Homo sapiens: one gene and its partners. The protein of the gene in region 2 interacts with the protein of the main gene of each other region in a pairwise test. Each region holds a gene or a part of one and is shown on either strand. Other genes may lie near its edges. The genes, in order: ZSCAN5A, NFU1 and SH3BP4.

Region 1 (3,750 bases), on a different chromosome or scaffold from region 2:
TTGCAGAGATGGGGTCTCGGTATATTGCTCAGGCTGGTCCTGAACTCCTGGGCTCTAGCATGTTCCCATGTCGGTCTTCCAACCTGTTAGAATTACAGGCCTGAGCCACTTTGCCTGCCACACACCCTTTTTAAAAAGCATTGCTGGATTTTCCCTTTGCACAGGGTGAAATCAAATCATTGATGAATGAGCATCAACCTACTAGGCCAATGAGAATCTGAGCTAAGTGTCCCTACCTGGGTGACCCGTGTGGTATATACTCCCAGAATTGAATACTAACTCCTGTGTCTGCCTTTATTTTTTCCTGTGTCTTGTTTCTTACTTTAACGGGGAATGAACTAAGATCAAATACAAAGTGATTTCTAGGAACATGAAACCACTTTCTTTTTTAGAGACAGGATCTCACTATGTTGCCCAGGCTGTTATCAAACACTTGGGCTCAAGTGATCCTCCCACCTCCGCCTCTGCCTCCTGAGCAGCAGCAGGCGCCCTCTGGCAAAACCACTTTTAATTCCAGAATTTCAGGCTCCCTTTTCTCTATCATATCTGTGTGCTTTTTCAATAAAAATTAATTTGCTTCTAATTGAAAACTAAAAATTGTATATATTTATGGCATATAGCATAATATGCTTTGTAGTATTACAAACATTGTTAAATGGCTAAATTGAGCTAATATTCATATGCCCTACCTCATGTACTAACCATTTTTGGTTTTGAGAATACTTGAAATCTAATTTTTTTTAAGCAGTTTCCAAGTATACAATACATTGTTATGAACTGAAGTCACCATGTTGGACAATTGCTCTTTTGAATTGATTTCTTCAATTGAAATTTGTACTCTTTGACCTATATCTTCCCAACCCCTACCCCAGCCCTGGTAACTATTCTACTCACTACTACTATGAGTTCCACTGGGTTTTTAATTATTATTTATGTTATTTACTTCTTTTTAAATTTTTTTTTGTAATTTGAACTTGTGTTTTAGATTCAGTGGGTACCTGTGCAGATTTGTTGCATGAGTATATTGAGTGATGCTGAGGTGTGAGGTATGACTCTACCCATCACCCAGGATATGAGGATAGTACCCAATAGGTAGTTTTTCAACCCTCCCTCCCTCTATCCCTCCAGAGTTTCACTGTTTTGGAGTCCACGTCCTGATTTCCTTTCCTCTGTGTACCTGCCCCGGAGCGGGATTGCCGGATCATGCAGTTGTTGGACTTTCAATTTTCTGAGGAGCTTCTATACTGTCTCCCATATCGGCTGCTCTAATTTACATCCCAGCACAGGGCGCAGAGGACCCCTTTCCCCCAAATCCTCACCAACACTCGTTCCATGTGTCTTTTTGGGAACAGCCACTCTAGCAGGCGTGAGGGGTGCCTTGTGGTTTGGATTTGCATGTCCCTGATGATGAGTGATAATGAGCACCTTTTCCTAGACCTGCTGGCCATTCACATGTCTTCATCTGAGATGTCCACACAGGCGCCTTAAGCCCTTCTAGTGGGTTATGTGTTTTCTCGCTCTGGAGGAGTTTGAGTTGCTTATGTTTTGCACAGGAGCCCCGTGAGATGTGTGGTGTGTAAATATTGTCTCCTCCTCTGGGTTGTCTCCCGCCTCTGCCGATTGTCTCCCTGGCTGTCTCTCTGTTCTGCACTTGCTCAAAGTCCTTCCAGGAAGTGTGGGGCACTCGCCCTCCAGGCTACCAGTGACTTTTCCCAAGACCCTTCTGCCAGTTTTTTCTCCCCTCTGCAGACCTTCAGGTTGCTTCCCCCACCTGTGTCTAGGAAAGCAGGGCTGTGTTCTCATAGCTGTTGAACTTGGACGATAATTGATGCCTGGAGAGTATCACTCAGTGGCTCCTGCCTAATGAAGCTAGGTTTAGGAATTAATTTTTAAAAATCTTATTATTGTATCAACCCACTTCTTTAAAATATCAAAGAGCACTAGACTTTAAATCCATTTTCTGAGATGAGATTAGGAATACAGAAACCCTTAGAGACAGAAGGTAGATTAGTGATTGCTAGGGGCTGGGGTGGGTGGGCAGGGGGTGATCACTGATGGGGATGGGGTTGCTTTTGGGTTGATGAGATAATTCTGGAAGTAAACAGTGGTAATGGTTGTACAACATGGTGCATGTCTTAGTCCCATAAAATCGTGAACTTGAAGAGAGTAAAAAATGATGAAATTTATGAATGTACATTTTACCAAAATAACAAAATATCTGTGTAGGTGCTTAATCCTCATAGGATCCTTTAATGCTGTCCCTTCCCTGGAGCAAGTAAATGTTCTGGAGTTAACAAGAATATGTGTTGGGGAAAATATTACATTCTAACTCTTTTTCTCTATCCTTTTGCATAATTATGACTAAGGGCTTTGCCTTGGATCTTGTCCTGATGGGGAAACATAAAGGGCTTACTTTATTGTTGCATCACATTTTCAGAGCTTCACCTAACTATCTTATTTAATTTATAGTCAAGAACAATGTTGTTCCAATTGACAGGAAAACTGATTCAGCCTCTGCACAGTGATTTCCTAGAGATCAGAATCCAGGGGTCATTAAGATTTTAAACCAGAGTATGTAGTCAGGTATAGACACTGGAAGATTTCCACTGTGCTGAATTCGATGCTGCTGAAGAAGTGGCATCCAGGATGAGGGATTTCGAAGGGAGGGATGGATGGAGTAGTAACTTAAACTAATGAGGCTCATACTTTTCCCCCCCAGACTTCTGAATGAACAGTGAATCTATTACTGAGGAAAACCAGAGGAAGCCTGTGTAGATAGGTATCAATTAGATACCAGCTACTGGAAGAGCTTTCTCAGAGACTGATTAAAAAATTCTCCACTAGATATGGCTGCAAATTGCACATCCTCATGGAGTCTAGGAGAATCCTGCAACAGACCTGGGTTGGAGCTGCCACGGTCTATGGCATCCTCAGAAACTCAACTTGGAAATCACGACGTGGACCCTGAGATTTCTCACGTGAACTTCAGGATGTTCAGCTGCCCGAAGGAGTCGGACCCCATCCAGGCTCTGAGGAAACTCACTGAGCTGTGCCATCTGTGGCTGAGGCCCGACCTCCACACCAAAGAGCAGATCCTGGACATGCTGGTGATGGAGCAGTTCATGATCTCCATGCCCCAGGAGCTCCAGGTCTTAGTCATGATGAACGGTGTGCAGAGCTGCAAAGACCTGGAGGACCTGCTACGAAATAACAGAAGACCCAAGAAATGGGTGAGTGGGACCCTCGTGATTGGTGCAGGGAAGGGGAGCTGGGATGGGGGCTGCACGGTGCAGCTGGACTCGAGAGGACCCGAGGGGCTGCTCTAGGTCAGGGCTTCCAAGTAGAGGAGAGTTTGCCCGTCGGGGACACATGGCAGTGTCTGGGGACAGTTTTTGTTGTCAGGGAGGACAGGAGACGCTGCTAAGCGTTCTCTAACGCTCAGGACAACCCATCATGACAAATAATCATCCAGATTCCAATATCAGCTGTGCTGAGACGGCAAGTTCCTGGTGTAGGAGATGGACAGGCAGAGGGGGTACAGGGACCCACACACTGTGTGAGGCCAACATGAAAGAAAGACATTGGTGAAATATTAGGCCTGATGGAATGTAGGGAAGGAGGCATTAGAGTGAACTGAAGGGGGGCCCAGGAGTCCCATCCTGAAGCAGGGAAAGTGGTTGGTATCAGATGCAGGGATCTGCCCCCAGGTCCCCAAATGAGCCCCTAAGTTCTAATACAAGGTGAGCTGCC
Region 2 (3,750 bases):
TTCTTTGCTACTTAATTGGGGGCTAGTAGCCAGATACCATTTTTAAAACAGACTTGTTTAGCTGTTTCTTAAGCTAAAAACTTCAGTAAAAATAGTTTTAGATATTTCACAAAAAGCTATTTTAGAATATTCTAAAAAGCATTCTGTTTCTTCCTGTATGGAAAAAAGTAAATAAATTAGATGGGGGGAAATGTATTTTAAACTCCTTCACACATATGCAAAGAAAGAGCCATGGGAAATGAGGGACAAAAATAAAAATATCCTTGGATAAAATCCACGTGTACAGAAGATGATTCAAGAGGTTATAAATAACTCATATGAGGTAAAGCAAACATGCAATATTTATATATCATTCTCTGAAGAGCATATTTTATTAATCTTCAAGTTCCTCAGCATATTAATAATAAAAACTTGATATATATTATCAACAAGTCTGACTGTTATGCCCAAAGAAAATCCAGATTATTTTAAGGTGAGTTTGCTTCTTTTTCATCTGATTCATCATCCATAACCTAAAACCAAAAAACAAAGACAATTTAAGAATTAAGAAAATGATTAGATTTTGCTGTTTTCCTGATTTTAATATTACTTCTTTACCTGATACACTCTATAATGAGGCATGACAAGCCAGTAAGAATAAATCTATCAACAGCCCCAAAGAACAAGGTTTGAATCATAACCCGGTATCCTAAAAACATAAAAGCAACCCCATCTCTACTGAAAATACAAAAAATTAGCCAGGCGGGCGCCTGTAGTCCCAGCTACTCGGGAGGCTGAGGCAGGAGGATGGCGTGAACCTGGGAAGCAGAGCTTGCAGTGAGCCGAGATCGCGCCACTGCACTCCAGCGTGGGCAACACAGCGAGACTCTGTCTCAAAAAAAAAATAAAATAAAATAAAAGCAAATTAAATATTTGGAAATTAATTAAAGCATTGATCACTTCTCCTTGTCTCAAAGAGGCTACCCATAGCAGAGTCTCAGCTGGGCAGAAAAGACTATAAATAATTAACTGGGGCCAGGCGCGGTGGCTCACGCCTGTAATCCCAGCACTTTGGGAGGCTGAGGCAGGCAGATCATGAGGGCAGAAGATCAAGACCATCCTGGCTAACACAGTGAAACCCCGTCTCTACTAAAAATACAAAAAATTAGCCGGTCGTGGTGGTGGGCGCCTGTAGTCCCAGGTACCCGGGAGACTAAGGCAGGAGAATGGCATGAACTGGGGAGGTGGAGGTTGCAGTGAGCCTAGTGCCTGGTGATAGAGCACTCCAGCTTGGTGATAGAGCAAGACTCCGTCTCAAAAAAAAAAAAACAATTTAACTGGTATTCTCTAGCCATAAGACTAATGTAAATGACTTTTTCTTTTTTTCAAAACCATCTTATTTACTTAAATATATTCTGTGAAGCTATACCAAATTGTTATTTTAAAAACATTTATTTTTATTAAAATGAATCCCCAAGGAAAGTGAAAAACAAAACAAAACAAAAAAACCCCACCATATTAGGAACTAATTATTTTAGTCTTACTGAGATAAAAGATCATTTTAAGCCTCAGGAAAATGTTACAACAGCTATTATCTTTCCATGAGTTAATGTATTACTAAGATAACAGACTAACTCCATTGGAGAAGGAAAAAGTTACATAAACCTAAGAATGTTTTTTTCTCCTCACCACACCTACTACAATTAGATGCCAATTCAAGTTTCTAATCTGAAGGCCAATTCATCACCCTACCCTGGACAATTGAATAAAAATGTTCCTCAGTCAATCCACCAAAGTATCAACTAACATAATTTTTTAAGGCATATAGATGATAATGGAACAAAGTAAGGTTTTTTTTTTTAAAAAAAATCTAGGCCAGGCACAGTGGCTCATGCCTGTAATCCCAGCACTTTGGGAGGCTGAGGCAGGTGGATCACCTGAGGTCAAGAGTTCAAGACCAGCCCGGTCAACATGGCGAAACCCCCATCTCTACTAAAAATATAAAAATTAGCCAGGCGTGGTGGCGCGCGCCTGTAATCCCAGCTACCTGGGAAGCTAAGGCAGGAGAATCATTTGAACTCGGGAGGTGGAGGCTGCAGTGAGCCAAGATCAAGCCATTGTACTCCAGCCTGGGCAACAAGAGTGAAACTACGTCTCAAAAAAAAAAAAAAAAAAAATCCAGATTCTGGCTCTGATCTGAGACAATCAATAGAAAAAGAATTCTTTCATAGGCTGTCTTTTTGGTTGAGTAAAAATTGGTATTTATTCCCAAGAAATTAATATTTTACATCCAATTTCAACAATACCCAATCCAAAAAATTTTGTCAACCAACTCATATTTTAGGCAGAATTATTCCTTAATTTGGAATAATATTCCCAAATACTTAATACAAAGCATGTATAGGACATTTGTAAGGCACACAGCTAGTTGTTGCAGAGGAACACAAAGACTTGGATATGATTTCAAGTCTCTTAGGGAGCTTCCACGTAAACATAAAGCTAAAACAGATACAGAAAGCTACATAAACATAAAGCAAAAACAGAAGCTTTGGACCTGTCAAAGAAGAACTTAATTCCAAGTGGGGGATGGATAAAAACTTCAAAGAGAAGATGTCATGTACTGGACCAAAACGATGGTGTGGAGGCTAAAGCAACTCCATCTTGGATGCTAATCTGCCACATTGACTACCCTCAGTTCTAGGAATGCCTCTAAGTTTTCTACTTAATTCTGCCTTTAGGTCAAAATAATCTTGATGTTATCCTAAACAAACACATACTTAGCATAAATCTTGCCCTTAAGCAAATTATAGGCTATTAGGCAAATAGCATTCTTGCCTTTTCCAGAGGGGCTGACTTCAATTGTCCTACACATATCTTCTGAAGCATGTATACCCATTCCTCCTGGTATATAAGCCCTGAGTCTAGCGGGTAACAATGCAGGAATCCATCATCTTGCAGCTGCCCGATAAATGGCTTCTGTTCCTCAGTCCCTATTAAATGTTTCTTTCTGACCAACTGGATTTGCCAGCCTCTGTCTTCAGCCTCTCAGCTCCCTAAGACTTTGGGGATAGGTCTATATAGACCTGCTCACTGTGGAACAGATGAATTTTAATACTACCCAAGGATGAGTGATTCCCAATGGAGCCCTTAAGGGCACAGAATTACCTGAGGTGGTCAGGCACGGTGGCTCATGCCTGTAATCCTAGCACTCTGGGAGGCCGAGGCGGGCAAATTGCCTGAGCTCAGGAGTTTGAAATCAGCCTGGGCAACATGATGAAACCCCGTCTCTACTAAAATACAAAATACAAAAAATGGTGGCATGTGCCTGTAATCCCAGCTACTCATGAGGCTGAGGGATGGGAACTGCTTCAACCTGGGAGGTGGAGGTTGCAGTGAGCCGAGATAGCGTGTCACTGCACTCCAGCCTGGGCAACAGAACAAGATTCTGTCTCCAAAAAAAAAAAAAAAAAGAATGAATTACCTGAAATTCTGTGGGTTGGAAATTTCTAATTTCCACACATCCCTTCACTCCTTGATAATCTCTCTCCATAAGGCCATGCTTTTTGGTTGAGAATCACTGCAGTGAGACTCATTATTACTGATGACAAGGTGCTGTGTTATACTCCTTAGGTATGTTGGCAAAAAAAAAAATGTTGATATTGTGCTACACGTAAAGCTCTAGAATTCTACTCAGTATAACAACAAACTATGATTTCTTAATGGGCTTCTTGCTTGCATATTTAAGAATACATAGATTAGGCCAGTTGTGTT
Region 3 (3,750 bases), about 170 Mb from region 2:
TGTATGTTTTGCCTTAGCTCCCTCACTAGTATAGTCAAGGAGCTTTTCATGCTTTGAGCCATTTGTGGCATTTCAGGAATTACCTTCATAGCTTTTGTCCATTTTCTACTGGCTTGTCTTTTTCAATGTTTTTATAGGCATTTTTTAAAAAACACAGTGTGGATGTCATTTGGGATAGCAGTACTAATAGTAGCTAAAACTTACTGAAAGCTACTGTGTGCCAGGCAGTCTGCTGAGCACTTTACATGCTGCCTTTCATTTTTACACTCATTTAGGAAACTGAGTCACAGAGAGGCGAGATAACTTGCCAGAGATTCAAGCACACTCCAGACACATCCCTACACCAATCAGACCTCCTAGCCACCCAGAAACTCTCCTCTGCTCGGAGGCTTCTCTGCTTCCTCCACCTGCCCCTTCGCCTCACTGCCTCCTTTCAAAATCTGCGGCATGTATTTTAGGGATACTCGTATCCATTTTCAGGAATTCCATGATCTACACACAGATGACACCAAAATCGGAACAGCAATGTCCACCCTTCTCCCGAGCCCTAGGTCGGTGCCTCTGTCCACCTGTGTCTCCTGAAACTTCAACACAGACTTCAAATGGAGTGGCAGAAAACCAGATTCCTTAGGGAAAGGAAGGTCTCCCAGACGGCAGGAGCGGCAGGCCTTAGGGGCAGCCGCAGGGGCTCGGGAGTCTGAACATACCCGGTTTGAATTCAGACTCTGGCACGCCCCATGCGATCATAACATAGTGCTGCACGTCTCAAGCCACCTATAAAAACGGGGACAATAACAATATCTGCCTCGGGGTTAATGGTGAGGACTGACTGTGTGTGTCTCGCTCAGGACCAGGAGCAACAAATGTTGGCTTCTTCCCCGGCAAAGACCCGCGCTTTCTCCTGGGCTCCGGGTTCCCGGGGTGGGGGTGGGCGCAGTCCCGAGGGCCCCAGGCAGTGGCGCAGTGGTTAGACCCCAGCCTCTGGAGTCGGCCTCGGTTCAGATTCTGGTTCTACCCTTCTCCTCTGTGGCGAACCAACCCTCCGAGCTCTAGTTTACTCGTGTGAAATGGACTAGCCAAAATTGGGATTTTTTTTTTTTTTTAGGATTAGATGTGTCGGTCCATAGACGTTGCTGGCCACATAGTTAAGTGGTGCGTTCACTCACTGGGCATTGATGGAGCGCCTACTACGTGCCAGGCCTGTTTTACGCGCCGGGGGCCCAGAGGCGCCCAGGTCAGACAAAGTGTAAACGATTCCGACCAGAGCCCTTCAATCTGCATTCCGCTTCGCAGGAAACTCTCCTCCTTTTATGATTTTCAGCCGGACTGCCTTCCCTGTTGTTAGTTTGTAACTTTCGCTCCGGCCCCCGCAGCCTCGCGCCTGCCTTCCCTCCACTGTCCTCAGCCAAGGTGTAGTAAAGCGTCTCCGAACGCGGCGCGACCCTCGCCCACGCCCGCTCGCGGGGGGACCGCACCGCCCCAGGGGTCCTCGCTAGGGGTTCCCGGAGAAGGGGTGGGAGATGGGGGTGCGGGGGGGCACAGGAGCGCGGGCCAGCACCCAGACCTGCTCGGTACCGGGGACCCAGACCCGAGGATGCCGGGCGGCCAAGGCCCCGCTACCCTGGCCGGCTCCGGGCGGAGGAAGAAGAGGAGGCGCCCAGACTGGATACCCGCCTGGACCCGGAGCCGCGGCACCACCCCCAGCCCGCCCCACGCTCGCCAGCCTCAGACGGCCGCGCCCCGCCCCGCCCCTCTCCCGAAGCCCCGCCCCGGCGCGGGACCACCCCCTCCGCGGCCTCAGCTCCGGTCCTGGCCCCGCCCCCCGCGCCCCCGCCCCCGCCCCCGCCCCCGCCCCCGCCCAGGCGCGGGACCACCCTCCGCCCGCCGAGGCGGGGGCCCAGCGCGCCCGGCACTCTCGGCGGTCCGGGCCCCTCGCCACTACCGCCGCCGCCGCCGCCGTGAGTCCCGCGGAGCCGCGCGCGCCCCCGGCTGGGCCGAGCCGCTGGCCGACGAGCGGAGCCTCAGGAGCCGGCGGGGACGCCATGCGAGCCAGGTAGGCAGGCGGCGGCGGGGAGCGCCTCGGGCGGCAGGGCCCTGGGGGCCGGCGGGGGCGCGGGGTCGTGCTCGGGGGCTTTGCACTCCCTTGCGGGCGCAGATCGTGCCGCGGGCGCCGATCGTGCCACCGCCGCCTGAGTTCGGGGCTGCGCGGGTGCCTGGGCGTGGGGCGGCTTCGGGGAAGCCTCGCGCGCCCCTCGCCGCTCCCCCGGGCGCTCGGGTCTCCCTGGTGCTGGTGGGCAGGGACCCGGCCCGGGGTTCCGGGCGCCGAGCCGCAGCCCTCCGCGTGCGCTCGGGCCGCCCCCCAACCCCGGCTCTGGCCACTTCCCGGCGGGCGGCCCTGCGGGGTGGCCTCCCTGGGCAACCGGACGCGTCCTCGGGCGCAAATCGGGGGGCGCGCTCGGCTCACGGGGGCCGTGGGGGCCACGGGAGGGCGTGGAGGGGTCGGGGCGCCCCCCTCGAGCGGCGCTGGGGAGGAGGGAAGGACGCGCGGTCTCCGGTTAAACTTGTTGGTGACAATGCATATTTCAACTTCTTCGGAGATCCCTCCTGTGAGGATGAAATTGAAAACTCCGGTTTCTGGCTTGGCGATCGGGTGACCGAGCAGCCGCGAGGTGACAGCGCCGGCGGCCCGCGGGCGGGGACCGGCTGGGATAGAGGCGCGTTGTTCTCTGAGCGATGTTTACCGAGAAGCCCGCTCCGCGGCACGGGCGGGTGTCAGTTGGGACCCCAACCCTGGGTCCCGCGGCTCCTAGCCCGGGGCCTGCGGTGTAGACGGGGGTTGGGGACAGGCCCAGCTGGCCCTGACCGGGTGTCGGGCGCCCAGAGATGCCGCGCGGGAGGAGCCGCGGGAGAGCCGCCGGACTCAGCGAGCAGAGGGTCGTGGAGCCTGATGGATCGATGAGATCTGAAAAAGAACACTGTGCGAGATTGTATTCCTGCTTATTCTTTCCAAGTTAGTAGGCAGATTGGAACTATAGAATTTATCCGTGATAATAATAAAGTTCGCATAACTTTTGTTCTGATTACAGAAACAATGTATGCTCAGGACAGAAAGCTAGAGATAAAGAGAAATATAAACAGCAAACAGGAAACCATCCCCAATCCCACATTTTTTACCAGCCTTGTCACAGCCTGGCAGATTTGAACATTAAGTTAGAACTGGAGCCATTCTTGCCTAAACCAGAGAATCCCTGAATGCAGCCGCCCCTTCTCACCCTTGTGACCGTCTCTGAGCTCCAAAGTTTGGGTTTTTTCCTTGCTCCCTACCCGGGCAGAATCTCTGCTGGCCACGAGTCCCCTTCCCAGTGGGCTGGGGGCTTTCCTTGAGATCCGTGGCCCAGATGAAATGATGGGAGAGGCCTGGATCCTCACCGCCCTCTGTGGTTTTGGTTCCTTGCCTTGTAAAAATGAAGGTAATGATTCTCAATCTGCTTCTCAAGCCACCATAAAAATTAATGGGTGGTTTGCAGAGCGTTTTGACATCCGTGGATGGACAGCGGCTGTACTTTAAGGCGCTGGGGAACATTCTACTGTTCCTCATTGCAGTGGTCATGCAGTGTAATAGGCTGCCTCTCACCTGGCCGTCCTGCCCAGGAAACAGACTCCAGGAATGTCCAGTGGAGCCCTGAGGACAATATTCCTGGTTCCTTGCTCAGTGCCCTCGGGACTCGGCCAAATCCCTCAGAGTGGGAA

The links.
Region 1: the proteins of NFU1 (region 2) and ZSCAN5A interact in binary tests that used the Homo sapiens proteins (3 or more experiments, as listed by UniProt).
Region 3: the proteins of NFU1 (region 2) and SH3BP4 interact in a two-hybrid assay, tested with the Homo sapiens proteins (one study listed by BioGRID and IntAct).

The regions. Positions count from the first base shown.
Region 1 is NC_000019.10:56,224,143-56,227,892, reverse strand, and holds part of ZSCAN5A (zinc finger and SCAN domain-containing protein 5A), read left to right. Parts: intron 1-2,719; 5' UTR 2,720-2,846; coding exon 2,847-3,230; intron 3,231-3,750.
Region 2 is NC_000002.12:69,395,779-69,399,528, forward strand, and holds the end of NFU1 (NFU1 iron-sulfur cluster scaffold homolog, mitochondrial), read right to left. Parts: intron 513-3,750; coding exon 468-512; 3' UTR 348-467; downstream 1-347. UniProt on the Homo sapiens protein: Iron-sulfur cluster scaffold protein which can assemble [4Fe-4S] clusters and deliver them to target proteins.
Region 3 is NC_000002.12:234,950,118-234,953,867, forward strand, and holds the start of SH3BP4 (SH3 domain-binding protein 4), read left to right. Parts: upstream 1-1,899; 5' UTR 1,900-2,053; intron 2,054-2,597; exon of another isoform or gene 2,598-3,750. UniProt on the Homo sapiens protein: May function in transferrin receptor internalization at the plasma membrane through a cargo-specific control of clathrin-mediated endocytosis.